4 separate regions of the Homo sapiens genome follow, and regions 2, 3 and 4 are each linked to region 1. The links come from fine-mapping of genetic effects on gene expression. A gene starts in region 1. Each other region holds a variant in brackets. All regions are shown on one strand. Distances are from middle to middle. Region 1 holds the start of ACOT13 (acyl-CoA thioesterase 13). Region 2 overlaps KIAA0319. Region 3 holds the start of LOC124901278 (a long non-coding RNA gene). Region 4 holds the start of C6orf62 (chromosome 6 open reading frame 62).

The links.
Region 2: its variant is fine-mapped to the expression of ACOT13 in atrial appendage (GTEx, PIP above 0.99).
Region 3: its variant is fine-mapped to the expression of ACOT13 in subcutaneous fat (GTEx, PIP 0.96).
Region 4: its variant is fine-mapped to the expression of ACOT13 in whole blood (INTERVAL, PIP above 0.99).

The regions. Positions count from the first base shown.
Region 1 is chr6:24,663,397-24,671,503 of GRCh38, reverse strand. ACOT13 (acyl-CoA thioesterase 13) reads right to left here and starts at 4,427. Exons shown (of 3, transcript NM_018473.4): 1 at 4,160-4,427. The coding sequence starts at 4,240. It overlaps TDP2 (tyrosyl-DNA phosphodiesterase 2), which reads left to right and starts at 4,605. Exons shown (of 7, transcript NM_016614.3): 1 at 4,605-4,806; 2 at 4,893-4,978. The coding sequence starts at 4,642. It overlaps LOC124901279 (a long non-coding RNA gene), which reads left to right. Exons shown (of 2, transcript XR_007059509.1): 1 at 1-855; 2 at 1,566-2,387. RefSeq lists enhancers at 4,389-4,683, 4,215-4,886, 4,887-5,559.
Region 2 is chr6:24,581,027-24,589,133 of GRCh38, reverse strand. It overlaps KIAA0319, which reads left to right. Exons shown (of 21, transcript NM_014809.4): 4 at 349-541; 5 at 5,432-5,530; 6 at 6,788-6,885. Among named protein-coding and RNA genes, the nearest start is that of KIAA0319, 61 kb to the left of the region's middle. The variant T/C (reference allele first, on the strand shown) is at 4,996.
Region 3 is chr6:24,688,230-24,696,336 of GRCh38, reverse strand. The region is part of intron 1 of ACOT13 (acyl-CoA thioesterase 13); the gene reads right to left. LOC124901278 (a long non-coding RNA gene) reads left to right here and starts at 566. Exons shown (of 2, transcript XR_007059508.1): 1 at 566-993; 2 at 1,592-6,630. The variant G/A (reference allele first, on the strand shown) is at 3,490.
Region 4 is chr6:24,715,602-24,723,708 of GRCh38, reverse strand. C6orf62 (chromosome 6 open reading frame 62) reads left to right here and starts at 4,555. Exons shown (of 5, transcript NM_030939.5): 1 at 4,555-5,169; 2 at 7,385-7,561. The coding sequence starts at 5,041. RefSeq lists enhancers at 1,712-1,801, 1,852-1,901, 1,493-2,286, 2,032-2,781, 3,081-3,874 and a silencer at 3,342-3,511. The variant TG/G (reference allele first, on the strand shown) is at 4,553.

The sequences.
Region 1 (8,107 bases):
GTATTTCTCCTAGTGCTATCCCTCCCCCATCCCCCCACCCCACGACAGGCCCCAGTGTGTGATGTTCCCTGCCCTGTGTCCAAATGTTCTCATTGTTCAATTCCCAACTATGAGTGAGAACATGCGGTATTTGGTTTTCTGTCCTTGTGATAGTTTGCTGAGAATGATGGTTTCCAGCTTCATCCATGTCCCTACAAAGGACATGAACTCATCCTTTTTTATGGCTGCATAGTATTCCATCGTGTATATGTGTCATTTTTTCTTAATCCAGTCTATCATTGATGGACATTTGGGTTGGTTCCAAGTCTTTGCTATGGTGAATAGTGCTGCAATAAACATACATGTGCATGTGTCTTTATCGTAGCATGATTTATAATCCTTTGGGTATATACCCAGTAATGGGATGGCTGGGTCAAATGGTATTTCTAGTTCTAGATCCTTGAGGAATCACCACAGTGTCTTCCACAATGGTTGACCTAGTTTACACTCCCACCAACAGTGTAAAAACGTAACTATTCCTCCACATCCTCTCCAGCACCTGTTGTTTCCTCTTGAATGCAGGTCTCCATTAACTTTGGAGATTGTTACATGAGAATAGAGGAAAAACTTTCAGAACTCATGGAGAGCTAAAATGCTCATGAATATCAAGCAGAATAGGAATTAACTAAGGGGACTGAACTAATCTTTTTGACTTTTTGCTTAAACATTGCTGATCTTTTGCTTTGTTTTTCAGAGCCTTGAAACTTTTCTTTTGAGCTATTGACAGCTTTTAACAATTTAGTATACTCCAATCAACAAAATTTGGAGCATATTTGTTTCTCTCTACCTGATTTCTCCAGAATTTGTAAACTATTTGTGAGTATTCTTAACTTGTGCCAATACAGTTATTTGCATAAGTGCAGTAAGAATCTGTTTTCATTTGTAACAGGACACAGTTGGAGAAACTGATTATTTTACCAAGGCTTTGAGTGGAAAGGTGTACTTTCCTTTAAGTAATCAAACCTGACTTATGGAGCCAATAAAAGCCCTTGGGAAAACTGGCCTCACACTTTACAAAGTCCCTGTACAGGGTTTCTGATATGTGCTAAGTAAAGAATGTCATTTTCTGACAGGTCCAGGAGCCCCTGGTTTATCATGGAACATCAAAAAGAGGAAATTCACCCTACTCATAGGTATTTGATGGTACAAATCCATGGCTGAGCTTGGCTTTAAAAAGAATCTTATCTGAGATTCCTTCTATGGAACAAAGTTCCTTCAAAGCCAATTTTAAAAAGCCTATGTGAAAAATAATTATTCTTGCTACACTTTATATAAATAATCTGGTCAAATATAATAAAGCAAATCAGTCCTACCATGATTTGTCTTTAGTAAAAATGGAAAACTGGAGAGAGAAAAATTGTTTCAAAACTTACAGTCCACTTGTTGTTAGATACTAGTCTTGCCTAATTTTTTCAATTTTTATTATTTTCTACAGTTTAGGCTGAATTCTAATTTTTCCTGGCTACAAGTCTCCAAAATAATATTTTTAATTTTTTTCTTTTCTTTTCCTTTTTTTTCCTAATTAGGAGTCACTGAAAACAGCTGTGCTTTTGTAAAGCCCTGCAAACTGAAGCTAGACAACTTAAACTTCAGAAGAAAATAACAGCAACCTATTTACACGCATAAGCCACTTTCATACCTGCCTACTGATGTATGGACTTCAGAATAACGTGGCCTATGTATATTTTCCAGGATTGTTCTTTTGTTTGTTGTTTTTCACCCTTCCTCCCCCTATTTTCTCTTCACAAGACATGGGAGTTCACAGCCTTCTAAAAATTAGCTTTCCTAATAACTTGGGACTTACCTGTCTAGGAATAAACCATCCTAGCATGAGCGATCAGATGAAATCTGGGACCAAAGACTCATTTTTCTTCTAAAATGCTTTCTCCAAAAAAAAATTTTTTTTAAAAAAAAGAAAAGGGGGCAAATGTAAAGGAAAATATCTTGGGCCCCCAAATCACTAAGTTAAAAGGAAAATTCAAGCTAGGAACTACTTAAGACAAACTTGCCTCCCATTCTATTCAAAGTCATCCCTCTGCTCATTGAGATAAATGTGTATCTGACTGCCTCCTTAGGAAAGGTAAATCAGAAACTCAAAAGAATGCAACCATTTGTCTCCCACCTACCCGTGACCTGGAAGCCCCCTTCCCGCTTCAAGTTGTCCCGCCTTTCCGAACCCAACCAGTGTTCATTTTACATATATTGATTGATGTCTTATATGTCCCTAAAACGCATAAAACCAAGCTGTGCTCTGACCACCTTGGGCACATGTTGTCAGGACCTCCTGAGGCTGTGTCACTGCGTGCGCATCCTCAACCTTGGCAAAATAAACTTTCTAAATTAACTGATACCTGTCTCAAATTTTTGGGGTTCACAAGGTTTAGTTATAAATGCTTCTTATGGAGCATGATTTTCTTACAAGCGAGGCAGGAGAATCGGATCTGGAGGCAGGGAACCTAGGGCTGTTTCACGCTGACTTCCTAGAACTAAATTGAAAGTAAAACCCTAACTTCCCACACCAAGTAACAAAAGAACCAGAGGCTTCTCCCTTTCCAAACCCCCACCTTTTCTGTGTGGCAGATGGGAAATTGAAAGTACCTCTGATTGGTTGCAAAAAGCAAAATTACGCTAAGAAGTAAGTTATCCCTTAAAAAAAATTATTCTTTCTGCAACCAATCAGATCTTCCCATAGGAGTGTAACTATGTAACTTCACCATCTGATTGCACGCCACGTCTTCGTTTGCATATAAGGGCAACTTTGTAACTTCACTTTAGCCTTTCATTGGTTGCTTTTCACAGCCAATTGTGGGTCACCACTTCATTTACATGAGATGAGTACCAAGTGGCCAATAGGAGACTTCAATGGGGTATTAGGGCCCCTGAGCTGCTGCTCCACACCCCAAACACAGGAGTGTCCTTTCATTTTCAGTAAATCCCTGCTTTTGGCGGGGCATGGTGGCTCATGCCTGTAATCCCAGCACTTCGGGAGGCCAAGGCAGGTGGATCACCTGAGGTCAGCAGTTTGAGACCAGCCTGACCAACATGATGAAACCCTGTCTCTAATAAAAATAAAGAATTAGCCAGGCTTGGTGGCGCATGCCTGTAATCATCCCAGCTACTTGGAAGGCTGAGGCATGAGAATCACTTGAACCCAGGAGGCGGAGGTTGCAGTGAGCCGAGATCGTGTCACTGCACTCCCGCATGGGCAACAGAGCAAGACTCCATCTCAAAACAACAACAACAACAAACACCTTCAAGGTCTGGCGTGGCGGCTCACACCAGTAATCCCAGCACTTTGGGAGGCGGAGGCAGGCGTTTCACCTGAGGTCGGGAGTTCGAGAGCAGCCTGACCAACATGGAGAAACCCTGTCTCTACTAAAAGTACAATATTAGCTGGGCATGGTGGCGCATGCCTGTAATCCCAGCCACTCGGGAGGCTGAGTGAGGCAGGAGAATTGTTTGAACCAGGGAGGTGGAGGTTGCAGTGAGCCGAGATCGCGCCATTGCACTCCAGCCTAGGCAACAAGGGCGAAACCTCATCCTAAAAAAACAAAAACAAACAAACACCTTCGGGCTTTGTGAGTGCTGGTCTCAGAAAAGCACTCAGTCTTCCTCCAAGGGCTAACTTACTTCTTCAGGAGTTGGGTGCCTTTGAGAAATTTCCCAAACCACTACAGAGGAACAACTTCTCCCTTCGTTCACCACTCTACCAAGCACTTGGCTTTTGTACCTTATTGCAATTATTTATCTTCTAATCTTCTAGAGCCTAGAGAATTAGACTGTAATGTGCCTTAAATGCAGAGGTTTCTCTTACTCTTCTCTGGAGCAATGCAGACGTTTGTTGGTTGAAGGATCAAACTCCAAAGTCCCTCCCAGCCTTGGAACTGTCTCCACGAGTCATAACCATACTTATCTATGTTTAGATAGAGAACTTACGCGTTCGACCCAGCATATTTAGGGGCTCCATTAAAGTAATAATCATTATTACTAAGGTGAATTTACAGGCGTACTAGAACACAACCTAACAAGAGATAATTATTCAAAGCTCACAACGGCACCAAGCACGGTGCTTTCTTTTCCTTCATTAGAAGCCACGGCTTCTCCCCTACCTTTCCCATACCTTTCCCAAAACTCTCTCAAAATTGCGAGCCTTGGTCATGGCCTTTATCACCTCCCGCAGAGACTGAGTCATGCTGGTCATCGTGGACGGTTTTCCAGCCTTTGGGCTTTGCGCAAGAACGAACTTCGGAAGAGCTGGAAAGTCCAGAAGTTAGTGAAAGAAGGAGGACACAAAGGGCGAAGAGCCCGCACCCTTCTCCGCCCCTAGGAGCGCAAGAGGCCGGGAGTCAGGCGAGCTGGCAGCCCCGGTGGTCCGCGATTTGCTCACTGACTTTCCTCGCACCCTTGTGACGAAGCGCGCATGCGCGCTTCGCACCCACCGCCCCGGCGGCTCCCTTGCGGCGCAGCTGCACCAGTTTTCCGAGAGCAGCGCATTTCCCCGCCGGGCGGTTGATGCGGGAGCGCCATGACACAGGCGCCTGCGCAGAGCCGCGCGTTGGCCTCCTGTTCCGCTTAAAGGGGCGGTGCAGAGGCGGCAGGAAGATGGAGTTGGGGAGTTGCCTGGAGGGCGGGAGGGAGGCGGCGGAGGAAGAGGGCGAGCCTGAGGTGAAAAAGCGGCGACTTCTGTGTGTGGAGTTTGCCTCGGTCGCAAGCTGCGATGCCGCAGTGGCTCAGTGCTTCCTGGCCGAGAACGACTGGGAGATGGAAGTACGCTTTCGCTGTCCTCGCTTCCGGCTCCATTACCTAGGTCGGTGGAGCGCACAAACCTCATCCCTTGTGCCTTTGTTTTTCAGAGGGCTCTGAACTCCTACTTCGAGCCTCCGGTGGAGGAGAGCGCCTTGGAACGCCGACCTGAAACCATCTCTGAGCCCAAGACCTAGTAAGTGATGAGGGGAGCGGGAGCCAGTCCGCACGGAGGCAGTTTGATACCAGGTAGCCCTGCGCGTCCTGGGACCTGCCGTGGAGCTGGGCGGACGATGCTGAGGCAGATCTCCAAGCTGCGTAGCCAGAGGAGCAGGGCTTGCGTTGCTGCTGCTGCGCGGAGTTGCGCCCCAGCAGCGGATCTAACACTGCACCAGACTGTCGCTTCGAACGTGATTTGGGGTCCAGGGAGGAAAAGATGGAAATGTAATGTTTAACTCAAATGAAAGGAAATAAGTAAGCGAGAGGTTTGAAACAAATGAACGAAGGCTAAACCTTCTATCGAAAAATGGCAACTTGGAAGTCTCCTTGCTTCCTGTATTGTTTATTTATTCTAGGCCCTAGGCTGACCGGCCAGAATAACAGGTTTGTTGTTGTTGTTATTTTTTTTTAATGCACACCTACTCCTGTTATTTCAGTGCCCCTCTCCAGTTCCTGCACTTAAAAAGTGTAGCTGCCTTACAAGGCCCTCTACTATTTGGCTCCATAACTTAGAACCTGCCTTTCCAGGTTCCAGGCCTATCAAACTTTTACTTTTTTCCAACGGGTCATTTTCTCCTGTCTTTGAAACTTCGTAAAGATCTTTATTACCTGTGCCTGGAATTTTTTTCTTTTCCCTTCCTTGCTAATATTTGTCTTAAAGCCCCAAGCTGAGACATGATTTATCTCTAGGAAGCTTTTCCTGATGTCCTAAGTCTGGGTAAGAGTCCCCTTTTAGGTACTCTTATAGCATCCTGCATGACCCCTGTTACAATACCTTAGTCCGTATTATAATTGCTGTTCATTATTTTATGTCTCCTACTAGACTGCACATCTAGTAAGGAGTATCTGTTTTGTACATTGTTAATTTCCCAAAGTCTGACACAACATTTGACACATAATAAGCTCCCAATAAATATTTACTGAATGTATAAAATTCTCCCAGCTATATGTACAACCTGTAAAATTGACTGTTCATAGTGGAGACTTTATTTTCCCTTTGGTCTTTTCAGCTACACTGGCTTACAGATGTGATAAGATATTTTCTTTAGGTTCCTTTCTCTGTCTTGCCTCTTGTTGGGGAATTGTTTACTCACCCACAGTGATTTGTCTCTGGCTCCCGTTTTACTAACCAGAGCAAGTTGGACTAGGAGGTGTTTGCCTAGCTCAAACTGGCCAGTCAGATCCTCTCCTTGGTTTCAGAATTAGGACCAAGAGAGTCAAGTCTGAGTCTTCCTATGGAGCTGGAACTGTAACATGTTAACTTAGCACCTGTGAGGATTCATACATATCTTTTTTTGTGTACAGAGAAGCTGAGAACAGAGGTCTGCAGAGAGACAATGAAGCAGAGGGAAGTTGAAGTGTAGGATTGAGAGAAAGCCCTTAACTGCCCTTCCTTAAACATGGCTGTATTTCTGTACCAGGCTCTGTGACATGTTTGTTTCCTTATAAATTCTCCTGTTTTGGTCAAACCAACCTGAGTTAATGTCTGTTGGTTGCAACAGACTATATTGTAACCAATAAATAGTAACAAAATAAGTGGATTTCCTGTAATAGGCCCTCAGAAAAGATGCGGATCAAGCTGATCAATGGTGTCATGGCTATTAGGATTCTCTTACCCCGGAATGGTAAATTGGCAAAAACAAGCAAAGGTGTTGATTAGGCTGTGGTCTCTTGTCTCTCAGAACTCAGGTCAAGTATGAATGAGAGTGAGGTTTTAAAGTTTAGTTTGCTCAAGAGAGAAAAATGGGGAAGGGGCAAACTTCAGCGTGTTTCTAAGGCCTGTGACCTGATTAGATTTTTGATGTTGGCTTTAGCAAAAATGAAAGGGAAAAAAAAATTGATTGGAAGATTTTATGACCAGAAAAACTCAACCCTGCTGAGCAAGGGCATTGGCTGTCTTAAATGAATGGCGCAGGAATCTCAATTCTGGAGTGAATTCCTGGGATATCAACAAAAATTGAAATTGAACACTAAAGTGATTTAGTCCCCTACATTAGAATCTATCTTCAGTGTCTCTGATGAGAGACAAGGGAAATCCTCTTAAAACAGCTATGCTGAATCTTAGCTGCATATTGGAATTATCTGGGGAATTTAAAAAAAAAACCAGAGATTCTAATTTCATTAGTCTTGAGTGGGGCCCATTATTCCTTATTGGCTTTTTTTTTTTTTTTTATTAGCTGTGCAGGTAATTCTAATGCAGAGCCAGCATTGAAAGCCCGTGTCCCAGAGCCTTGTTATTTAGAGTGTGGACTCTGGACCAGCAGCGTGCCACTGCTACTCGGGAATTTGTTAGACATGCAGAATCTTAGGTCTCACCCAGACCTACTGAATCAGAATCTGTATTTTGACAAGATCTCCAGGTGATTTAAAATTGAGGAGCACTGGCCTAACACATAAAACCTAAGACACCAGATATACTGACAAAAGCACTTCCTCCTCTGCTTAGGAATGAAGTCAACAAATCATGCCCCTAAAGTTTGCCAGTCCCTTTCTGTTCCCTTAGTATTTCTGTACAGCAACGTTTTAGAGTTTATTTCCCTTTTCATTTTTCCAAAAGGAAATTTTTAATACAGTTGCCTGGTTTTTCTTGCTGCATTAAATATTAAATATTGTGGGTGTTGCATAAATTGCAGAGATATTTGTATTAGGTTCTTGTGTTGCTATAAATACCTGAGACTGGGTAATTTATAAAGAAAAGAGATTTAATTGGCTAACAGTTCTGCAGGCTCTACTGGAAGCATGGCCCCAGCCTCTGCTGGGCCTCAGGAAGATTTCAATCATGGCAGAAGGGAAAGGGGAGCCCAGGTATCACATGGAGAGCGCAGGAGCAAGGGGGTGGGGTGGTGCCACATACTTTTAAACAACCAGATCTTGCAAGAAGAACTCAGTATCGTGAAGATAGCACCAAGACATTAATGAGGGATCTGCCTCCATGACCCAAACACCTCCCACTGGACCCCACTACCAACATTACGGATTATATCTCAACATGAGATTTGGAGGGGACAAACATCCAAACTATATCAATATGGAATTGGATTACAATGAAACAGAGGAGGAAAGGATGGCATAGTGAATAAGAGCATGGACTCTGGAGCCAAAATGC
Region 2 (8,107 bases), 82 kb after region 1:
ATTTCAACAAATGAATTTTTTGGGGTGGAAGGAGGTGTGGGGCAGAAACATTCAGTCCATTGAACTGGTCAGTTTAGGGGCTACTATAATTACTTTCTCATTCTTTGAGTGTTTGTGTGAGTTCACCTATACTAATTGTCCAACCCACAGTTGCCTTATGTTTCTAATAGACAGCAAAGAGAGTACTTGAGAGAGATGGTCTAGAGTTCCAGAGTTTTGCAATATTATTCATGGTTTTTCAAACATTACCAAAGCTAATTTATGAAAAAGGTTGGTAACATTGAGTTGCTTGAAGAGTTGGACTGTTTTTTTTTTAATAACAATTTATCCTTGTAATTGATCTCGTAGGTTCTAATGCCTTCCCATAGTCTTCCTCCGGCAAGCCTGGAGCTCAGCTCAGTCACCGTGGAGAAAAGCCCAGTGCTCACAGTCACCCCGGGGAGTACAGAGCACAGCATCCCAACACCTCCCACTAGCGCAGCCCCCTCTGAGTCCACCCCATCTGAGCTACCCATATCTCCTACCACTGCTCCCAGGACAGGTAACTTTTAAAAAATACAATTTCAAGAAATGTACTGAAGACAGGCTGTAGAATTTGGTGGTGACAACTTTTAAAGTTTACTCATTCCCTCCAGGCACATTTTTCAGCATCTATCATGTGCCAGAAACGGTGCTGCATACTGGGAATAAAAAGATGAATAAGACATTGTCTTTTCCCTCAGGGACTCCATAGTCCAGGAGAGGAGACTGGCAGGTAAAGAGGTGGTTCTGATACAATATGGTAAGTGCTGTGAGAGGCTGCTGTGGGAGCAGAGGGGCACCCTGATCCACTAACAGGGTCCAGGGATGCCTTTCCAGAGGAGATGATGCTAGGATAGAGTGAGCCAGCAAAAATGGCATTGGTCTGTTGTTCAGGTGGAGGGAGCAACATGTTTCATAACAATCGTGATCATTGTATTTACTGAGCACTTACAGAGTGCCAGGCAATATGCTCAGTGCTTCCCATCCATCATCTCTCATTCATTGCCTGTGCAAGAAAACAGAAGTACAAGAGCTCACGGGACATTTCGGAAGAACTGTAAGGGATTCAGTATGGCTGGAACTGGAGTGGTAAGCAGGACAAGAACTGGAAAGATCATGTATTTTGTGCTAAAGATTCTGCACTTTCCTGGATGGGTATAGAGAATCCCTGAATGGTTTTAAGCAGGAAAGCAAAATGATCAGATTTGTATTAAGAAATAGTGTGGGATGAGCCCGGTGGCTCACGCCTGTAATTCCAGCCCTTTGGGAAGCCCAGGCGAGCAGATCATGAGGTCAGGAGTTCAAGACCAGCCTGGCCAACATGGTGAAACCCCATCTCTACTAAAAATACAAAAAAAATTAGCTGGGCGTGGTGGCACACACCTGTAACCCCAGCTACTTGGGAGGTTGAGGCAGGAGAATTGCTTGAACCCAGGAGGCAGAGGTTGCAGTTAGCTGAGATCGCTCCACTGCACTCCAGCCTGGGCAACAGAGCAAGACTGTCTTGAAAAAAGTAAAAAATGAATAAAAAGGGACCAGGCACGGTGGCTCACGCCTGTAATCCCAGCACTTTGGGAGGCCGAGGTGGGTGGATCATGAGGTCAGGAGATCGAGACCATCCTGGCTAACAGAGTGAAACCCCATCTCTACTAAAAATACAAAAAATTAGCCAGACGTGGTGGTGGGCGCCTGTAGTCCCAGCTACTTGGGAGGCTGAGGCAGGAGAATGGCATGAACCCGGGAGGCAAAGCTTGCAGTGAGCTGAGATCATGCCACTGCATTCTGTCCAGCCTGGGCGACAGAGTGAGATTCCGTCTCAAACCAAAAAAAAAGGAAAAAAAAGAAAATAGTGTGGAGTTGACTAGAGGCAACAAGATCCATGAAAAGGCTATGGTGAATGGTTGCAGAGATGGAGGGAAGGAACCAGATTTAGGAGACAGGAAGGGAGCAGAGTCACAAAGATTTGATAAGTGATTGAATGAATGTAAGGATGTGAAGGAAGAGGACGCTAAGACATATGAAAATACAGAACTAAAATTAGATGAGCAGTTGGGCTGAAGATAAAGGATTACGAGTCATCGGTGTGGAGGTGATAGTTGCAGACACGGGGGACATAGGAGATCATCCAGGGAGAGAGGGGGGTTAGCTGAGGAGAGGCCTGAGGACTGGAACTTTGGGGACATTGTTCTATAAGGAGCTGGAAGTGCAGAAGGAGCCTGCAAAACTGATTGGGTAGTTGTGCCAGAGAGGTAGGAGATAAAGAGGAAAGCTAGAGGGAGAGAGTTCTATGGAGGAGGATAGAATAAGTTTCCATCTACCCTTCTAAGTTCTAGGCTAGTGCCCCTGTAACAAAAGATAGATTAACAAGAGAGAAAAAAAAAACAAGTTTATAACATGTACATCTTACCTATACGTGGGAGATGCCCAGGGAAATGAGGAAATCTCAGAGAGGTTTATTATATAAGCTTATATTATATAAGCCTGGAACTCTGGCTTATATAGCATCTTGAACTAAAACAAGGAAAGAGGATTGTGGGGAAGGCAAGTGGCCAAAGGTGCCCAGAATAAACGAAGTAAGCAAGAGTGAGGTTCATTATGCAGATTTGTCAGGACCTTCTCTATGGATGTGGATCTCTTGGAATGTAGTCACCCTTCTCTTCCTGGTATAGAAGGAGAGAGACCCTTACAAATGGAGATTTCCTTTATAGATATAAATTCCCCTTACAAAGGAGTAACTTCTACTCTGTTTTCAGAGCTCCTCTTGGTCTGCTGTTTCTTCAAAACAAACAAACAAACAAACAAAAAACACAGCTCAAAATAATCCTTGTATAAAAGAGTTATAGTTGCAATGGCATATTCTAGTTTCCTACAGTCTGTGAACCAAAAGTATCTGAGACAGGTCTCAATCAATTTAGAAAGTTTATTTTGCCAAGGTTAAGGACTCACCAGTGACACAGCCTCAGGAGGTCCTGATGACATGTATCCAAGGTGGTCAGGGTACAGCTTGTTTTTTTTTGTTTGTTTTGAGACGGAGTCTTGCTTCGTGGCCAGGCTGGAGTGCAGTGGCGTGACCTTGGCTCACTGCAACCTCTGCCTCCGAGGTTCAAGAGATTCTCCTGCCTCAGCTTCCTGAGTAACTGGGATTACAGGCACCCATGACCATTCCCGGCTAATTTTTGTATTTTTAGTAGAGACAGGGTTTCTCCGTGTTGGCCAGCCTGGTCTTGAACTTCTGACTTCAAGTGATCCACCTGCCTCAGCCTCCCAAAGTACTGGGATTACAGGTGTGAGCCACTGTGCCTGGCCACCTTGGTTTTATACATTTTAGGGAGACATAAGACATCAATCAGTATGTGTGAGATGTACATTGGTTTGGTCCAGAAAGGCATGACAACTGGAAGGGGGTCTTTCAGGTCATAGGTATATAAGAGACAAATATTGCATTCTTTTGAGTCTTTGATCAGTCTTTCACTGAATACACAATTTACTTGCCAGAGGGGGTAGAGGAATAGTCACTTATGCCTTGTCTGGCTCAGTGAATCTGTATTTTTTCATAAACAATAGGGCAGAGGAAACAATTAGATATGCATTTGTCTCAGGTGAGCAGAGGGATGGCTGAGCTCTTTCCCCCACCCCCTGCACCTGTGAAGATAAGCTATTGATTTACATTGCCAGGGTGAAATTCAACAAAACTGTTTTAGGGCAAAGATCTTGAGGCCCACAAGGAGTTTCTTGTGGGCAAATTATAAGGAAGGCATGTAGCTTTTTTTTTTTTTAATCTTTGTAGGTATCTCGTTTAGGAATAAAATGAGATGCGGGTTTGCCTGACACAGTTCCCAGCTTGACTTTTCCCTTTGGCTTAGTGATTTGGGGGTCCCGAGATTTATTTCCCTTTCACAAATCATATTTTGGGGTGGCATGTTCTGGTCTCCTGTAGTTCCAAAAGGGAAGACGTATCAAAGCTCCATGTGTCGCAGAGGCTGTGGTGAGGATTGCAAAGCTTCCATTAGATTTTCCAATAAGGAAGTTATTAGAATATGCTAGACGTAAGGGTCATGTTTCCTGAGCTTTTCTGTGGGCCATGTATTTTGGAGATTACTCTCTCTAACTTTTGTATTTACTTTGAGCCTGAGCTTCCATAGAGAGAAAGATAATAGTGGGAGAGAAGCTGTGTAGTATACGGAAAAAGAAACTGGCCTGGGAGTTTGGCCCAGGATCTTTGGGTTTTAATAGAACCTACTGCATACAGTTGTAATGAGGATTAAATGAATTGATCATTTTAAAGCCCTTGGGGCAATGCCTGGCACAGTTTAATCCGGTATATAAGTGTTTGTTGAAATGAATACATTTAAATTAAATATTGGTGGACCTATTGCTAATTACCATACAGCCTTGGACAACTTTGCTTTTCTAGGATTTAATTTCCCCACCTATAACATGATAGGTTTGGATCAATGTCCCTTCTAGGTCTACAGTTGCTGACTTTCAGGATAAAGAGTTAGTGAAAATGACAAGAGAGGAGCCAGCAAAGCCACTGAGAGCCTCTGCAGCTGATCTAGGAGGCACTCGAGGGACTGAGGACTGAGAGGAGGGGAGTGGATTAAATGAACAACCTGTCTGACATCTCCTTGCAGCTGATCCCTCTGGAGCACTCAGCTTTTTTTTTTTTTTTTTTTTTTTTAAATCTTTGCTTTTCTCTGTGTAGTATCTGGACATATCGCAATATATTTTACAAGTGAAACTAATGTCCAATGGAGCCAAACCGATAGAATTTATGAATATATCAATGTAATCTGGTTACAGAGAAAGTAAACAAGTATTGTTCTGAATGCTTACTTGGTGGCTAAGCACTTTTGATAAGAGTTAATGTTCCTGCTGCTTAAGTTAAAATAGGTTTTTTATATTGAGGGTGACTGGATTTTGTCTTGGAAAGGTTCCAAGTACAAGGCCATTAGCAGTAATTCATGAGGCTAC[T/C]ATCAGAACTGAGTGGAGTGTGACTAATGAGACAGAAACACTTAGGATTACACTCAATCTTTTTATAACTAAAAATAGCTCACACCAGGGCGTCAAGAAAAGCTGATAGCAAGGGAGAAAATGGACCCAATTCACAGTTGCATGAAACCTGTTTCACGCAACTCTTGTCACTCAATACGTTGCTCAGTCAATTTGAATCATTATTTTTGTCACAGTGCCAACTCATATTTGTGGTTTAAAACCCTGTACTATAATATAGTGTACAGTTCAATTTCTAGCCAGAGGAAAAACGTGCCTTAGCTAAAATCTTATGAAGAACTATTACAAAAGCATATGTTATTTTAATTTATGGATACCAAAAACAGATCTAGTGTAGAGCAGTAATGTAACACATTATATTATATAATTGCACGTATTATTTCTAATTAACTTTTAGTGAAAGAACTTACGGTATCGGCTGGAGATAACCTAATTATAACTTTACCCGACAATGAAGTTGAACTGAAGGCCTTTGTTGCGCCAGCGCCACCTGTAGGTGAGAGTTTAACCTTCCTCCCTGACCACTAGGAACTGGGGTGTTTTTCTTCAGCAGGTCCTTACAGGCTATTTACAACGCCGATTCTTTTTCACAGTATTGCACGACGTCACAAACAAAGGTGGAGGACAAGGCTTTGATTATTCTTAAGCATCAACATTTGTTGAAATAGTTTCAAATGGAGTAAGAATCTAGGAAATTAAATACAGTATATATCGTTTAATTGGTCAGGATGGAAAGTCATAAATTTCTGATGATGCAAAGCAGATCAGGAGAGGCTGCCACGTACCAGTTCTTGAACTGTAATAACCCATAGAACCTGGGAAGATTCCACCGGGATGAGAGGGAAGTGGCGTGCACCCATAGGTTTGTTTGCAGATACTGTGGCATTGACAATCACGGCTCTCAGGTTCTCAGGATGCCTCACACTAGCTGCTCAAAAAAATTTATTCAAAATGCTCTTTCTTCTACTTGTCCAGTGCTCTACCATTCAGTAAGCATTTGACCTGGGACCTGTGGCCTGTCAAATGCATTGTTTTTAAGGTAAACTCATTCTTAAGGTGTTTGACTATTTCTCATTCAGGTTAGTTCCTTAATTCATTTTTTTCTCCACCACATATTGGTCAAAATTTTATACACAGAGATGATAATATTTGGCATTTGCATTTTAATCCTTTGAGGTGAGGTACCTTATATTTTAACTACTAATATCTGCAGCTGGGAGACAGTTTCATCTTAACATAGACATGTTTATACTGTTTTTGTGTCCTTAAATAAACCCCTACAACAGATCAAATGAATTGAAATCTCCTTGCCTTTTGTTAAAAAGAGAAAAGCACAATGTATTATACTATGTTAAAACTGATATGGATAGTCAGATGTAGCCCCCTAGGAAAAAACTCATCACATACTAATGGTTAAGTTAGGGAGGTTTTTTTTTTTTTAACTTTATACATTTTAAAAATTTCCTGTAAGACGTATGTTTTTATAACAAAAAAAGAAATGTTACATTAAGAAGATACATGTTATCTTGGCTGATAGTTGAAAGTCAAGTTCATAAGATGATAACAAGAGTGAGGGGATAAAAACAAATAAACAAAAAATATATATATAAGTTAAAAAAAAAAAAGAAAGCTGAGTTGAGTATATCTAAGGTAATCTGCACTGGTGGTTTAAAGGCTGTCATCTTCCCTCTGCCCAGGTTATCTAGTGTCCTCTCAGAATTTATAACTACTCATATTTATTTTTTGCTCTCAGAAACAACCTACAACTATGAATGGAATTTAATAAGCCACCCCACAGACTACCAAGGTGAAATAAAACAAGGACACAAGCAAACTCTTAACCTCTCTCAAGTAAGTAACTGGAGACTGGTTGTGTCTAACAGCACAGCGTAACGGCATAGAGCTCAGTTAATACCTTCTTAGCTACTGAACCCAAACGTCTTTCTTCTTTTTGGGGACAGAGTCTTGCTCTGTTGCCCAGGCTGGAGTGCAGTAGCGCAATTACAGCTCACTGCAACCTCTGCCTCCCGGGTTCAAGTGATTCTCCTGCCTCAGCCTCCTGAGTAGCTGGGATTACAGGTGCACGTCACCACACCCGGCTAATTTTTTTGTATTTTTTGTAGAGGTGGGGTTTCGCCATGTTGGCCAGGCTGGTTTTGAATTCCTGACCTCAAGTGATCTGCCCTCCTTGGCCTCCCAAAGTGTTGGGATTACAGGCATGAGCCACCACGCCCAGCTGCAAACATCTTTCTCATGGTAAGATCAAAAGTAGGATATGAATGAATAAAGTTTCAGGCATGCAAGTAGGCAGGCAGATGGTTAAGAGGCTTTGGATGGCGTTTCTTTATTTGGGTTACTTAGTATATCTCAGTTTGGGGAAAAGAGCCTGGTTGTCCCACAAGCATTGCAGAGAGGTTAAAAACCTGTTGTAACTCTTGCTCTCCTTGCAGTGTTAAGGACATTCTACTTATCTCTGGTTCTCAGTCCGGCACATCTCTAGAGTTGCCAATAATTCCATTCCAGGTCACAATTTGCCCTATCACATATTGTTCTATGATACAAGCACTCACAAGAAACATGCCCTCTTTCTGGCCTAGGAGGATATATAAACCGACTTAGCGACTAGAGATCTAGTCTCCTACCAGATGATTATGTTGACTTCATCTCCTGGGACCACACAGCTAATGGTACAACACAGACTTGCATCACCCTCATGTCATGGAGCTGTGTTTCTCAAAGTGTGGCATCCAGACCACCGGCAACCAATGCACCAGAGCTAGGTGGTAAAAATGCATGGTTCCATACACACATTTGAGAACTGCTGCCCTCTGCTGGTCCATCTCACCCAGGCCTCTTTGAAGCCCTCTGCAGCGAAGCTAAAGGCCTGTCTAGGTGATCTTTAGTGCTCCAGAATTCAGGCTTCAAACATGCGGCAGCCTCTTGACAGATCCAAATGAGACTGTCTCCTGAGCCCCTTCTCTATGCTGACTTTAGGAGTGCGGCTTCTGGGACATTTTAGCTTTTTCTACGTAGTGGACCCATCACGTCTTGCATGTTGAACTGTACAACTTTT
Region 3 (8,107 bases), 25 kb before region 1:
GTCTTTCCACCTTCACATCTCCCAATCACTAACTATATATGAGTAACCTCTAGGTATGACTCCCACCAGGAAGACATTTGAGAGTTTCACAAACCACCTATTTAGTGGTTTTATTGTTGAAGGCCCTGAAGGAAAACAGAACCACGCGATATAAAACATCCTAAACAATATTATGTCATGTTTTGCAAAACAGGTAAATCAATGTCAAAAATAAATTTTAGAACAGGATTTTTGTTGTTGGGTTTTTTGTTTTTTGTTTTTTTGTTTGTTTTTTGTTTTGAGATGAAGTCCTTTTCTGTTGCTGAGGCTGGAGTGCAGTGGCTTGATCTCGGCTCACTGCAACCTCTGCCCTCCAGGTTCAAGCAATCCTCCCGCCTCAGCCTCCCAAGTAGCTGGGATTACAGGCACATGCCACCACACCCAGCTAATTTTTGTATTTTTAGGAGAGATGAGGTTTCACCATGCTGGTCTCGAACTCCTGACCTCAGGTGATCCACCCACCTTGGCCTCCCAAAGTGCTGGGATTAGAGTCGTGAGCCACCGCGCCTGGCCTATGATCGTCTGTTTATAGCAATAAATGATCTAGCCACAAGATGTCCTCATAAACTAAATAATACACACCGAGCAGGAATAAGGTGTAAACTTAACCTCATTCACACATTTATGTGATTCTTTATAGCAGGCATTGGCAATGTAAAAAATGAATGAAGTTTAATCCCTGCTCTTAGCGGGTTCAGTGTCTAAAGGAAGAGACAAGTACAAAAACTGCAGAGGAAGAAACTGTTGTAGACAGAATAAATACAGGTTTCTTGGAGTAAAGATATCTAACTTTTAAAAATGTATATTTCCAGGGAAAAGACATTAGGAAAGGCTTCCTGGAGAACGACATCTGAGTCTTGAAGAACAGGCAGGAGTTATCCAGGTGAAGATAAGGGAAAAAGCCAGGCAGTTGAAGAAATAGAACTAAATACGAGCGGCTTGTAGACAGCAAAGGTAGTTTTAATGTGTTGTTTTTGTTTTTGTTTTTTGAGACAGAGTCTCGCTCTGTCACCCAGGCTGGAGTGCAGTGGTGTAATCTCGGCTCACTGCGACCTCTGCATCCCAGGTTCAAGTGATTCTCCTGCCTCAGCCTCCTGAGTAGATGGGACTACAGGTGCGTGCCACCATGCCTGGCTAATTTTTGTATTTTTAGTAGAGATGGGGTTTTGCCATGTTAGCCAGGTTGGTCTTGAACTCTTGACCTCAGGTGATCCACCCACCTCGGCCTCCCAAAATGCTGGGATTACAGGCATGAGCCACCGCGCCTCAGTTTAAGTGTATTTTAAGGCACAGTTTGTTCAGTAAAGCTTAGTTCTTAAAGTTCCATTTGATTACCTAACTTTGGCTGGGATGACAAAATGTAAGACAAATGTCAGTTAGATTTTTCTAGTACAGAATACTGGTTTTGATTTTTCCCCCCAACTTGAAAGGCCAAAGGACATACTAATAAAATTGTTTTAAAATTTACATTGGAATAGAGAGAATTTTTTACTGGGCAGCCTGATATGGCAATATAAATGCCTTTATATGTTCTCAATTCTTGTCTCCTCAGGTCAAATAAGAGAATTAAACCAACGGAAGATGATGAAGGAATGTCCTGCCCACCCTCCCAGAGCTAATAAGTAGTCTTGCTGGGGAAGAGGCCAATGCAAAGCTAACTTCTTTCTGATGAGGAAGGGGAGTAGGGAGAGAACCTTGTGAAAAAAACATCTCAGCCTTGGTAAAGATGGGCTGTAGGGCACACACTTGTTTATTCAGTTATATCAACATAGCTAACTCCATGTTAGAGACCATGCTGAGCAATTTGACATGTGCTGTCTCAGTGCTGCCAATGTTTGAAGTGAATACTATTGTCTCCATTTTACAGATGAGAAACTGTCGAAAAGTTTAACTAGGATGTCTCAGGTTTAACCATTATGCAAAACAGCCTACCCTCAAATATCACCTGGACTGCTACAGACAACTGGGTTCTGATTCCTTAGGTGTCTTGGTGAAGATGGTATGGAGGCTTTTATGATGTCAAGGGGTCAAAAATTTACCTGCCATGGCCTAACAATACAGAGAACTGTCCAGATGTGTTCAGTCCCAGGATCCTGCAGGTTGGACAATTGCAGTAGGTTGGCAAGAACTTTTATGGCTCAGCACTATTTGCCACAATGGGCTCCTCAGTATATCATAACAATTCTTACATGTACACACACATATACAATAATCTGTCCCTTTTATATATGGCCTTATATCGTGCTGTCTCTTCCTTGCACTTCATGCATTCATATGAGTTTATGCAACTTCGTCTGTGTAATCCCAGCACTTTGGGAGGCCGAGGCAGGCAGATCACTTGAGGTCAGTAGTTCAAGACCAGCCTGGCCAACATGGTGAAACCCTGTATCTACTAAAAATACAAAAATCAGCCAAGCATGATGGGGCACACGTATAATCCCAACTACTTGGGAGGCTGAGGCAGGAGAATCCCTTGAGCCTGGGAGGTGGAAGTGGAGGTTAGCCGAGTTCGCACCACTGCACTCCAGCCTAGGCGACAGAGTGAGACTCCGTCTCAAAAAAAAAAAAAAAGACTCAGGTTGCCATAGCCCCTCACCCTCCCTCTCCCATCTGAGATACAATTCATCACAAAGAGACACTCCACATGACACAGAGTCTCTCCTTTCCTCACTTTTTCAGCAAAGATAGATAGGGAGAAGGGCTGCCTAATAACAGCAGTGAAGATGCTGTTATTCATCACTGAGATGGTCCTTTATGAAGCTGAGAACCAAGAATTCTCTTTAAGCCTTGGCATCTCAGATCATTCTGGTCTTTTTTTAAAAGGGTTGCATTCTGCTGAGCAGTGGGATAAACAAGCCACTGCCATCACTGTAACTGCTGCTGGCTGCTATGCAGCTCACCACCACTGCCTCCACTGCCTCTGCTAAACAGATAAAGGAATGTATGTCTCTGGCTCAGTAAGGGTGTCTGTAATGGGCCTCAAGCACAGGAGTGTGACATATGGTATGAGAAAATCTGTGTACATAAACACGTGAGCCACCCCCAAAAGAAGACTGTCTACAGAAGCACAAAGAAAAACAGACAATCTTAATGGATGACAATTTTGTATGTGTATATTTGTGAATAAGGCTGTTTTCAAGCAATTTTCCCTGACCATGGATGTTGCTAACTTTGTGTGTGACACTGCAGATGACAGGAGGTGTGTCTAAGGACAGTGTATGAATGCACCTTCATATAAGCAGGAAAGGAGGTAAAAAGACAGGATGTGGCAGTGTGATGGGGTAGCAACAGCAACAAACACAGATGACATTTATGTTCAAGGGGCTCTAGAAAGGTAGATGCTATAAAAGTACCATGGTTCAACCATATTGCTGTTATCAGTCCAGCATTTCTGCTTTATAATGTATGTTTCAGTAGCTTCATTACACAGGTGGCTTCCGCTTAATGGTT[G/A]AGAGTACTGGCTCTGGAAGCAGACTTAGGCAAGACCCTGAACTGAGGTTTCCCCATTGATAGAGATAATGTACTGTACTGCCCTTATAGGGTTTTGTAAAAATTAAGATTAAAATTCAAATTAGGACAAGGCCTGGTATATCACAGGTGATCAAAACATTTTAATTTTGGGAGACTGAGGTGGGAGGATTGCTTGAGCCCAGGAGTTTGAGACCAGCCTGGGCAACACAGCAAGACCCCAACTCTAGAAAAATTTTTTAAAATTAGCCAGGCATGGTGGCATGTGCCTGCAGTCCCAGCTCCGAGGGAAGCTGGGGTGGGGAGGATCGCTTGAGCCCAAGAGGTCAAGGTTACAGTAAGCTGTGATCGTGCCACTGCACTACAGCTTGGCTGACAGAGTGAGACCCTGTCCCCAAAACAACACCACTTTAATTTGCATCCTTATTATAAAAACTATTATCAAACAGAAACTTTGGTTTGTATAGTTTGGCATGAATTTTCTTAAAATTATTTCTATTGCCGAGGTCAACTATGACCTAACTACAAAACTCAAAGGACCCTTGGCAGCCTCTCTTTCCCTTAAGTGACCTCTCAGCATTTGGTGACGTCGTGAACTTTTCCTAGCCTTCCCTTAACTCCCATGACACCACCTCCTCCTGGTTTTCCTCCTACTCTCCCAGCCACTCCCCAGTCTCCTTTGCTGGCTCTTAAGTCTTAGAGTTAACTAGTCGTTCAAAGACCAGACTTGATACTGGACTCACTCAGAAGGATATAGGATATATTTCTCTCCTGAGCTGTTGCAACTGACTTCCAATTTATCTCCCTATTTCTGCCCTTGCCACCATCCCCATGTTTAGTCTCAATAGTAGCTACAAGAATGCTCCTTTGAAAATATAGACTGCTTGACAGAAAACAACAGTGCAAAAGTGATATGCCTTCAGCATGATCCTTGACTTTATGTTCAGATGAAACTATTGTTAAGTTGAAAGTATCTCAATTTATGATGGGCTTATCCCAATGCGACCTCATCGTAAGTCAAAGAGCAGCTGTAGAAGTCAAATTATGTTACTCATCTGCTTAAAACCCTCTCTAATGGGGCCCTCAAACAATGGAAAGCACAGCAATGGAAAGTCTGAGGGCCTTTACACCTTCTGTTCCCCTTCCTGGAACACTCTCCTCCTTCAGTATTCATGACTTTCTCAGGTCTTTATTGAAACGTCACTGTTTCAGTGATATCTTTCCAGATAAGATTTAAAATTGAATTCTTAAAAAAAGAACTTACAGGAATACACATCTTGGGGCAGGGTGGGGGGTGGATTTAAGTTCTCCTGCACCAATACTCTCTATCTTCCACCTTTATTTTCCTTTATAGCAATTATCACCATCTAACATACTATATATTCTCTTTACCTATTTTGTTTAGTGTTTGATTTGCTCCACTAAAATAGAACTTCCATTGCGTGCAGGCGTTTTTGTCAGTTGTGTTCACTGATGTATCTCCAGTACCTAGACTAGGAATGTTTTAGTAGCTAAATACATTCCTAAAGGAATGTATGTCTCTGGCTCAGTAAGGGTGTAGGCACATAGTAGGCACTCAAATATTTGTTGAGTGAATGAATACACTGAAACCTGAAGGTCAACAAGGAGCATTCTATAACAATATGCCCAATATTTAGTGGCTTCAGCAACTAACTGAACAAACTATGGGGAGAATCTTCTATGTAAAAGGCATTCAACTGGGCACCTTCCACTAGGCACTAAAGTTCCCTTTGACAAATGGTTATTAAGCATATGGACTTGGCTCCCAAGGAAAAAGTATAGAGGGAAGACAAACAAATCAGCAGATATTTTCAATAATATACAGAAAGTTCTATAACAAAAGTTAGTCAAGGTGTAGAAGTAGATCAGAGGAAGACATTTGGGGCTGCCAGGGAAGCCTTCTCAGAGATAGCAGGTGTCACCTGCAAAGGACTTTGAAGGATAAGTGAAAATGGCAGGCAAATGGGGCAAGGGTAGAGGATCCAAAGGTGAGTACGATGTTGCCCTAATCCTCAGGGAGTGTACAAAACAGCAAGGGTTATAAGAGAAGGCCAAAAATAACAAGAGTTGGCAAACTAATGCCATGGGAAGCAAAACAAAGCCCTAGGGAAGAGCAAACAGGAATTAAATTAAATATTCCCTGAAGGTTAGTTAGCTAAGCTTAAGTAACACTCTTTTTGTTCACTGAGATAGTGGTGGTGGTGACAGATATGCTACAAAAGAATAAAAACAATTACTATCCCACTAAAACAAAGTTTAATGATTAAAAAAGAAATCACTATATTTTTCTTCCCCAAAGGCTGGTAAGTGGCAGATTTTATTGAATCATTCTGGAATGCCTATAAAGGTGGGTGCTCTGAAGGCCTCTATCACATGGATCTTATTGGCAAGACTTCTCTGATACACAGGTTCTCTACTGCCTTGAACCTGGGAAAAGGGGGCTGACAGGGAAGGAGCCTTTCTTATCCTGTCTTCCATAGATTGAGGATTTGGGAAATGCTTGTTCACACTTCCAGTTCTCCTTTAAAGAGGGAAAGCGCAAATTGTGTAGAATTTTTGCAATTGAGCTTCAGTTTGGAATCTAGTACGGTAGTTCCCAGGAGGGGATGATGCTCTGAAGGAATGCAAATCTGGCAAATCAAGGCCAGGGGAACAGCCCATTAGTCATACAAAACAAAACAGGCACAAAGAAGTTTAAATCATCTCTGTTCACTTTGTATGCTACAAAGTCCTGGAACTCCTAGGATGGCCAAGTAAAAACTACAGTTTTTTCTTAGTGCTGTTTTTAATTCAGCAGTAGCTCAGAGGATCTACATAGAAAGAACTAAATCTTGACTATGTTCCATGGCAGAGAAAATGTATTCATCATTTCTCTTGAAATTGGTCATCCATTCACTACTGCTAAAATTAATTAATTTTATAAAATACTTATATTTGCTGTGAGTTTATGCCACATTCCTTTCCTCTAAAATATGAATAACTCTTGAGTTCATTACTTCACTAATTGTATGCTGATTCCTTCAATCCTATCTCTGCGCCATCTAACTTACTGTTTTTATTAGATTTTTAATTATAAAAATAAAAACATTCATTTTACATATATAAAGCAGCATAGAAGTACAATTTCCTACCTACTACTCTTTCGGTGCTGAATATCATTCTATACCATTCCCTAGGCTTACTCATATATACACAGGGTATACAAAATTTTCTTAAAGGGTGTTTTTCTTGCCTTTTATTCAATTACAAAAATGGGATCATATTATATACATTACTTGGCAGCTTTCATTTTTCTCTTCCCAATGTATCACAGTCATTTCTCTAGCTCAATTTATTTATTTTTAATTTTTTTAGAGATGGGGTCTCTCTATTTTGCCCAGGCTGGACTCAAACTCCTGGGCTTAAGTGACCCAAAAGGAGAAGGCACGCCACCATGCGCAGCCTCCAGCCCAATGTATATAGATCTCTTTCAATAGCTGTGTGGTATTCCCTACTATGAATATACTACAATTTATCAAACTATTTCTTAAAATGTGTTATTTCTATATTTTTTTTACCATCACAAAGATGCTTTATTTGTATATGACAGACTGACAAAATTAGATAGCTGGGTATTAAGAGTATATATTTTAAAGTTTGTTTTTTTTTTGAGACGGAGTCTTTTTCTCGTTGCCCAGGCTGGAGTGCAGTGGCACAATCTCAGCTCACTGTAGCCTCCACCTCCTAGGTTCAAAGATGCATATTACCTTAATTTTTACACTCTGACAAGCAAAACATAGTATCTCATGGTTTTAATTTGCATTAGCCAGACTCACAGTGCTTTTAAGCATCCTTTAATGTTTATTGCCTTTTTTCTGTGAACAGCCTATTTATGTCTTTTGTGCCTACTTACCTATTACAGTCTGTCTCTACAGTTCTTTTTACCTATCAGATTTTAACACCAATTCATATGGTGAAATTCCAGACCGTTGTATTTTGACTTTTATTGTATCTCTCGCCATAAAAAGATGAGTTCAGATGAACAAAGTGCATAGTGCCTGACACATAGTGCTATGTAGATGTTTTTAAAAATAAACAATTGAAATTTCTAAGTTTTTAAGGTGCACATCATTTAATGACATGCTCCTGTTAGTAAGTCATTTTTAAGATGTGACTTATAGTAACACAGGACTCAGTCACATGCAGTTGCTGTGATTTCTTTTACTAATTCTCCCATGGTTGGACATTTAGGTTATTTCCCCTCACACAATTTTTTTTTTTTTTTTTTTTGAGACAGGGTCTCACTTTGTTGTCCAGGCTGGAGTGCAGTGGCATGATCATAGCTCACTGCAGCCTCGACCTCCTGGGCTCAAGGGTTCCTCTCACCTTAGCCTCCTGCACAGCTGGGGCCACAGGCACACACCACCACACCTGGTTAATTTTTTTATTTTTTTGTAGAGATGGGATCTCATTTTGTTGCCTAGGCTGGTCTCAAACTCCTGGGCTCAAGCTATCCTACTGCCTTCACCTCCTAAAGTGTTGGGATTACAGGCATGAGCCACCATGCCCAGCTATTTCCCACTTTTGATATCACAAATAA
Region 4 (8,107 bases), 52 kb before region 1:
GTGGTGGGGGCCTGTGGGCCCAGCTACTCGGGGCTGAGGCAGAAGAACTGCTTGAACCCAGGAAGCGGAGGTTGCAGTGAGCTGAGATAATGCCACTGCACTTCAGCCTGGGCAACATAGCGAGACTCTGTCTCAAAAAATAAATAAATAAACAAGTAGATAAATAAAAATGGGCAAAAGTTCTGAATAGACATTTCTCCAAAGAAGATATTAGAACAGCCAATAAGCACATGAAAAGATGCTCAACATCATTAATCGTTGGGGAAAGGAAAATCAAAACCACCATGACATACATCATACCCACTAGGATGGTTATACTAAAAAAGACATAATAACAAGAATGTGGAGAAATTGGAATACACTGCTGGAGGAAATGTAAAATGATGCAACAGACTTGGAAAACATCTGGCAGTTTCTCACATGGTTAAAGATAGAGTTAACATATATCCCAGTAATTCCACTCTTAAGTATATGCCCAAGAGAATTAAAAACATACGTCTATACAAAAGCTTTTAAGTAAATGTTCATAGCAGCATTATTTATAACAGCCAAAAGGCAGAGACAACTCAAATGTCCATCAACTGATGAATGAATATAGAATTTCATACAATACATATTATTCCACAATAAAAAGGAATTAAGTACTGATACATGCTACAACATGGATGAACCTTGAAAACATTATGCTAAGTGAAGAAGCCAGTCACAAAAGACCACATATTAAATGATTTCATTTATATGAAATTTCAGAAACGGCAAATCTATAGACAGAACATAAACTAGAAAGAAGAGAAGTGACTGCTAATAGGTACAGGGTTTCTTTTTGGGGTAATGTAATGGCTGCACAACACTGAATATATTAAAAACCATTGGATTGTACACTTCAAGTAGATAAATACGGTATGTGAATTATATTTCAATAAAGCTGTTATTTTAAAAATTCTTCCATGAAGTTGATCATGGATACAAGTCAAGGCCAGGTCAAGAACATATAAGCCGGCTGGGAATGGTGGCTCATGCCTGTAATCCCAACACTTTGGGAGGTTGAGGCAGGCGGATCACCTGAAGATCATACTGGCTTGTATGTCTCATATGTTTGTTTGTTTTTTTTTTTTTTTCCGACGGAGTCTCACTCTGTTGCCCAGGCTGGAGTGCAATGGTGCGATCTCGGCTCACTGCAATCTCCGCCTCCCGGGTTCAAGCGATTCTCCTGCCTCAGCCTCTCGAGTAGCTGGGACTGCAGGCGCCTGCCACCAAGCCAGGCTGATTTTAGTATTTTCAGTAGAGACGAGGTTTCACCATGTTGGCCAGGCTGGTCTCGAACTCCTGACCTTAGGTGATCCGCCTGCCTCGGTCTCCCAAAGTGCTGGCATTACAGGCGTGAGCCACCATGCTCGGCTTACTTTTAAAAATCTTTCTTTTTTAAACCAATGCTCTAAACTACGTGACATTTTCTGTTTTATCTCTGTGAGCTTTCCATAGTTACATGATTTTGAAAACAAATCAGCAAAGCACTAGCAAAATGCAAGCTGTATCTTCCGAGATTAGAAGTTATTTGGAAATCTCAGGACTCATCCTTTGGTTCTGGACAATTTATATTGAAGGGTGGGTACCAGTTATTCTTTTGGCTCATGGCTGAAATAATGTTATTACAGCTGATCTGTTTTGACTTCACGAAGTGAAAAGTAGTAATTGGGGTCCCAATGGACTTCTAAAATCTCAGAGTAGCCAATGAGTATATAAGCATTGCTTATGTGGAGTATTGACCTTTGCTAAGTACTTACATAACTGTGTTTTAAAGAGCACATTAGAGCTTTGAAAAATGGACTCAACGCTTTTTGGTGCCAAGGACGTGCGACTCGGCGGCAAACGTTTCGATGAAGACAGTGAACCACCTAAGGGGCAGGCTGTAGGTCTGAGGTCTTGGGGGATTCTAACAGAAAGTGTGTTCTGACAGCAGTGGGTAAAAATCCACGAGTCAGACTGGGCTGCTCCTCTCCTAAGCCACAGCAGCAACGTCTGAACAACGTCTTTGACCTTGTTCGAAGCTTGAGGACCGCCCTCCCTGCCTGCGCACGTGGCGGGGTGGGGACAGAGGCAAGTAGCACTAACATGAGACATCTGCTCCCGCACGCCGTTTAAATTCCAGGTGTCGAATTGAGTTCTAGGTTTGTTGCCGCAGGATACCGCGGGGCCGACCCCCAGGACTAACTAATTATAAGAATCGAAATAAGAATCTTCCAATCTCCAACACACACTTTCCTTTTCCTTCTTTGCTCCGCCCCTACCCTCGCCCACTCTCCGCCGACTTCCGCAGTTTTGGCCCGCCCAGGTCGCTAGTTCGGCTCTGTCACGCGCCCAGCCTGACTCTGAGAGGCTGACGAGACTCGGGAAGTGCGACTCCATCCGGGTGTTTTGTTGAGGATGGTTGAGGGCGTGCTTTTATGACGACATCGGGGCGGGGCGAAGAGCCAACTCAGGAGACTGGGACTTCCTGAAGAAGGGGGGCGGAAGGAGTGGCGGGGAGCCCCCCCCTTTCCACGCCCCTTGGATACTCCATACTGGAGGAGAGAGGAGTCTCAACTCTCAAACTCCCCTTTTGAGGGGCGATTACTGAAATGGAGAGGTTAAATTCAAAGGCTCCACTTTTAAAAGACCTGTCCCTATTCCGTACTCTTGATCTGTTTTCCTCTTTTTCGGTAACCTTGAAAACTTTCCCACCTCCAATCCTTTCTCCCCCTTTGATTCTGCGCAAATGGTGGGGTCCCGCAGGGCGCGCAGTCGCAGTCACACCGGGGCGGTGCCGGTGAGAGGCGGGTGACGCAGCGGCCGTCGCTGCCATTTTAAGTTGTTTGTTCTCGCTTCTTTTCTCAAACGCGACTCTGCCCCGGACCCGCGAGGCGCCCGAGGCCTTCGCCGCTTCTGCAGCCACCGGCGGGGGGGGGAACGAGGCAGTACTGCCGCGGACGCTCACCAACCGCTTCGGCTTTTCCCCCCTCCGGGTCTCCTCGACCTTTCCTGAGAGCCGGAATCCGACTGTAGGGGGAAGAAAGACTCAAGAGCAGATGCTTGAACTGAAATAACTTTATTTTGGGGGGTTACTTTGCTGACCCTTAGCGCAGGGCTTCCTTTCCCTTCCCCCTCCGCCGCCAGTACCAATCCAACTCCCCATCTTTCTCTTTGTTTTTCCTCTTTTTCTTTTTCTCTCCCTGTTGCCGCTGTCTCCGCGTCCTTCCCCTCCGTTGCCGCCCAGGGCGCCGAGCCAGACTATGGGTCCCAGGTGGGGGCTGAGCGGCGGCAGCAGCGCGGGCGGTCCAGTCACGGTGCGCACTGCAGCGGGGATGGAGGGGCTCAGTTGGCTGGTGGTTTTCTCTTGACATGGCTCCTGCCCGTGCTACCAGCAGCGCCCCCGCCGCCGCCGCCTCTTCCGCCGCCGCCACCGCTCCGCCCGCAGGCTGCGGCTAGAGGGCCCAAACCCCGCCCTAGAGTCGGTCCGTGAGTCCCGGGCTCCGCGGGGACAGGGAGGGGATTTCCCCGTCACCCACCCCGCCCTAGCTGCCTCAATTCCACCCCCTGCCCCTCGGGAAACAACTAACGACCCCACCCTAAACAATCCAAACTCTGGAAACATGGTCTGTTCAACGTGAGAGAGAGCTAATCCGGGAACTTAATTTTTTGGGGGGAGGGTGGGTGGGCTTACTTTAGAAGTAATATTAACACAATTATTTTCTTTTTTTCCCCCACTGAACCTTCCCATTTACCCTCTCCCGCCCACTCCACCCGGGCGGGAATTGTTTCCACGATGAAATGAGTGAAAACCTGAGTGATCCTGTGTCTCCCGTGGTGCGAGTGAGTCGCTGCCGCTGAAGGCAAGGGGTGGGGGTGGGACCTGCGGGGGTGGAAGGCAGGTGGTCTCCGGGCACCGCCTGGGATTTGGGAGAAGAACCCGCCACCTTTGCCTCGGCAATGCTCACAAGAAGATAAATCGCACTCCCCACCATTTTGAACGGGGGCAGATCCACAGGGAAGTCTCCCTTGGGGAATGTAGGACTAGTTGCAGGCTGGGGGTGTTGGGAACCCGGGCATTAATCAGGTCTAACCACAGAGCCGGAATAATTAATACCGTATTATATACCCCTTTTCCTTCTGCCGTCATGATTCTCCTTGGCAGCAGCGTTAGCAGCCGCCTGAGGGTGAAAATGTGGGTGATGGGGAAGTTGGTAATGACTCCGCTGTTTTTTCTCATGGCTCCTTTGGGCCACAGCTGCCCGCCCCCGGTATACACTGTAGTTGATTGCAGGGAAACCCTGTACCTCTCCCTTTCCTTCTCTACCGATTTTGCACTTTTCTCTATGCTCACCACCAAGTGTAATCAATAACAAGCACTGACAATACATAGCAATAGTGAAATCTGAAATAACTAAGAATTAGGTACTACAGCCATGGAGCTGGCTGGGTAAAATCTAATTGGATATTTCAGTTTCATTCACCTACCCTGTTTTGGTGTTTGGTTTTGGTTTTGGTTTTGGTGAGTTTTTTTTTTTTTTTTTTT[TG/G]GAAAGCAAGGATCACACTTCCCCCTCCCTGTTCCTTAATCCCTTTTCTAAAAAGGGGGGAAAATCCGGATGGATTTTAGGGATTGGTCTGGTGTCAGCTGTGTTTTATTGCACACCTAAATCCTGATTATAGGCTTTTCATTTCTCCGCAAAGCCTTTATTTTGGCAGTTAAGCCAAATGTGTTTTCCAGAAAGTTAGTTATTTTCTCCTCTTTCTTTCCTTTCTTTCCTCCCTTTTTCCCGTCTGACCCCAAACGTTATTGTCCAAACATGACTGGACAGCAGCTTTTGTTTCTTGACCCTGTAATATGACAGTCTGCTAATATTGACAGAAGGTGCAGTTTTTGGGTTATAGTCGTGATTTTCGCTAATCAATCATATTAGCAGGAAAAAAAATGACTTGTTTCTGTTGTACTTGAGTCTTAAGAAAAAGTGCCCATAGTTTAGTGACAATTTCCAAAGGCTTTAGTACCACCTGTATTTCAAAATGGGGGACCCAAACTCCCGGAAGAAACAAGCTCTGAACAGACTACGTGCTCAGCTTAGAAAGAAAAAAGAATCTCTAGCTGACCAGTTTGACTTCAAGATGTATATTGCCTTTGTATTCAAGGAGAAGGTAATTTAAAGTTCTTAATGGTGAATTAGCACAAGTAATTTTTGTAAGTGTATATTATTTGTTACTCTTAAATTATTATGAATATTAGGTTAAAGAGTGGTTGAAAAAAAGTCTGCTTTGTATGCTCTGTTTTTTCACCCTTAGGGGTGATTCTGTGAATTGAGCAGTTGCAGCATGCGAAAAGACCCTTGAGCGTTCTTTGGTTTGGAAATAAATTTGAGTCTGAAGCTTAGTAGTAGTATACACTGAGTTGACATGGGGTGGGCAAGATTACAAAATTTTATATGGAGTTAACATGGGAAACCTTATGATGGAATTTAAAGATTATCTAATGTAGAGTATAAATAAGATGGTTGAAAGTGTGAAATTGTAATCAGACTGTTTATATGCTAAAGTTTATCCTGTTTCTTAAACTGCGTAATGTAGGTAACCTTTTCTCTTACATTTAATGAAGTAGAATACACCTTTTAGGAGCAATTAAATACTGAAATGGTTAATTTGTGTTTAGAAGTGTGATTTTCTTTTTTACTTAGAGTTCATTTTGCCTTGTATAGAAGTACAGTTTTTAAAAACTCAAAATGACCTAGAGGAAGTTTCATTTTTAGGGGCGGTGGAGGTCTTAATCAGAATTAGTTCCGCAGTTAAATAGCAAACAGTAAGTTGTGAGTAGTCAAGGATGGGATGATAAGAGCAGTATTTTTTGCAACTTAAAATGAACATTTTCTTAAATTATCAGCAAGGCTTATTTGACCAAAGATGAGGTTATGAATGTAAGGAAGTGCTACTTGGATTTTGGTGCTTAAATTGTTAGCTAATTTCAGATCAGAAATACAATCTTAGTGTGGTATCTATTAAGTATCTGGAAGTTTTCCAGGTTTCCCCCTACTGTTTAACTCTTATTATTTTTGTTGCTGAGACAGGCCTCACTGTATTGCCCAGGCTAGTCTTGAACTCCTGGGCTAAAGTGATCCTCCTGTCATGGCATTTTAAAGTGCTGGGATTACAGGCAGGAGCTGCCACGCACAGCCCCAACTCTTAACTCCTAAAAGGTTATTTGTATTTAAGAACATTCTTAGCTGCTGAAGTATAGCATTGTGAAGTGATTTTTAAGTAATTTTTGAAGTGACTGTCCCAAGATTGGGTGGTATCAAGGACTTACATCTCCACTTTTGTTTTGTTGACAAGCTGACTCAAAATTGATGAGATTGGATTTTAGTTGAAGATGATACAGTGTATGCTCTTTAAATAAATCCAAGATAATAAGTAGTGAGACCATATCTTTGTATTTAATCTATATATTGCCCCAAATTGCACCATCTTAATTCTTTAACACCAACGATAATCTGGTTTTATTCTGTGAATGGACAGTGTCCATGCAGTTGCCCTGAATAATTCATGATATATACTTAATAGTACAGAATTTTAAAAAGTAGTTTAGTGATGCGTACTTGGTCTTGAGTAGTATTAAAAGAGAACTTGGTGTGCTTCTTTTTAGTCTTTCAAATATTGATGGTTTTGGCTGGGTGCAGTGGCTCACGGCTGTAATCCCAGCACTTTGGGAGGCTGAGGCAGGCGGATCACTTGAGGTCAGGAGTTCAAGGCCAGCCTGGCCAAATGGTGAAACCCTGTCTCTACTGAAAATACAAAAATTAGCCAGGTGTGGTGGCGCAGGCCTGTAATCCCAGCTACTCGAGAGGCTGAGGCAGGAGATCCCCTCGAACCCAGGAGGCAGAGGTTGCAAGTGAGCCAAGATGGTGCCACTGCCCTCTAGCCTGGGCAACACAGTGAGACTCCATCTCAAAAAAAAAAAAGAAAAACCAGAAATATTGATGGTTTTGATAATGTAATATTGAGAAAGTAATGGAAATTGGCCCATATAAGGAATAAAACTATTCATTTGTCTGAATAGCGTTGTTTTAAAACTGGTGAGATTTTTAATTTTAAGAAGTATTGTCCAAAATAGTGCTATGGATACCATTATGCTATAAAACTCAAGCATTAAACATTCTAATGACAGTTTGTACATGTATGGTTGGAGGGGGAGGTAGGGGAAGAACAGAAGGAATTACCTATCTGAAAATGTGTTTTCAGTGTATAAGTTACTGCAGACAGTTAAGAATTTTGTGGAGTTAATGTTACATGACATTGTAATATGAACTGAGTGTTAAAAGGCTGTGCTCCCTGTGGGTTAATACACCATTTTCTTTTCTTCTAGAAGAAAAAGTCAGCACTTTTTGAAGTGTCTGAGGTTATACCAGTCATGACAAATAATTATGAAGAAAATATCCTGAAAGGTGTGCGAGATTCCAGCTATTCCTTGGAAAGTTCCCTAGAGCTTTTACAGAAGGATGTGGTACAGCTCCATGCTCCTCGATATCAGTCTATGAGAAGGGTAAGTTCTGCCTTAAGTCTTGACTTGATAAAGTTTCTGTGGATTAACCTTGCATTTCCCCGCCCCCCGAACCCCCCTTAAAGTGGATAGTTATGATAGTGACCAGTCTCTTCAGGTAAATTTGTCTTTGTGCCATGTTGATAACTGGGATCATGACTTTAAAGCATTGTGTTTATAGGATTAGAAAAACACGTTTTTTTACGCCAGACCATTCTTATGTGGATGAAGTATATAAAGGGATTTCTTTAATCTGTGTTAGGTGTTGATGATCTCGGACTTTTTTTTTTTTTTTTTTTTTTGAGACAAAGTCTTGCTCTTTCGCTGAGGCTAGAGTGCAGTGGCATGATCTTGGCTCACTGCAACCTCTGCCCTCGCGCATTCAAATGATTCTCCTGCCTTAGCCTCCCGAGTAGCTGGGACTACAGTTGTGCGCCACCATGCCTGGCTAATTTTTTGTGTTTTTAGTAGAGATGGGGTTTTGCCATGTTGGCTAGGCTGGTCTGGAACTCCTGACCTCAAGTGATCCTCCTGCCTTGGCCTCCCAAA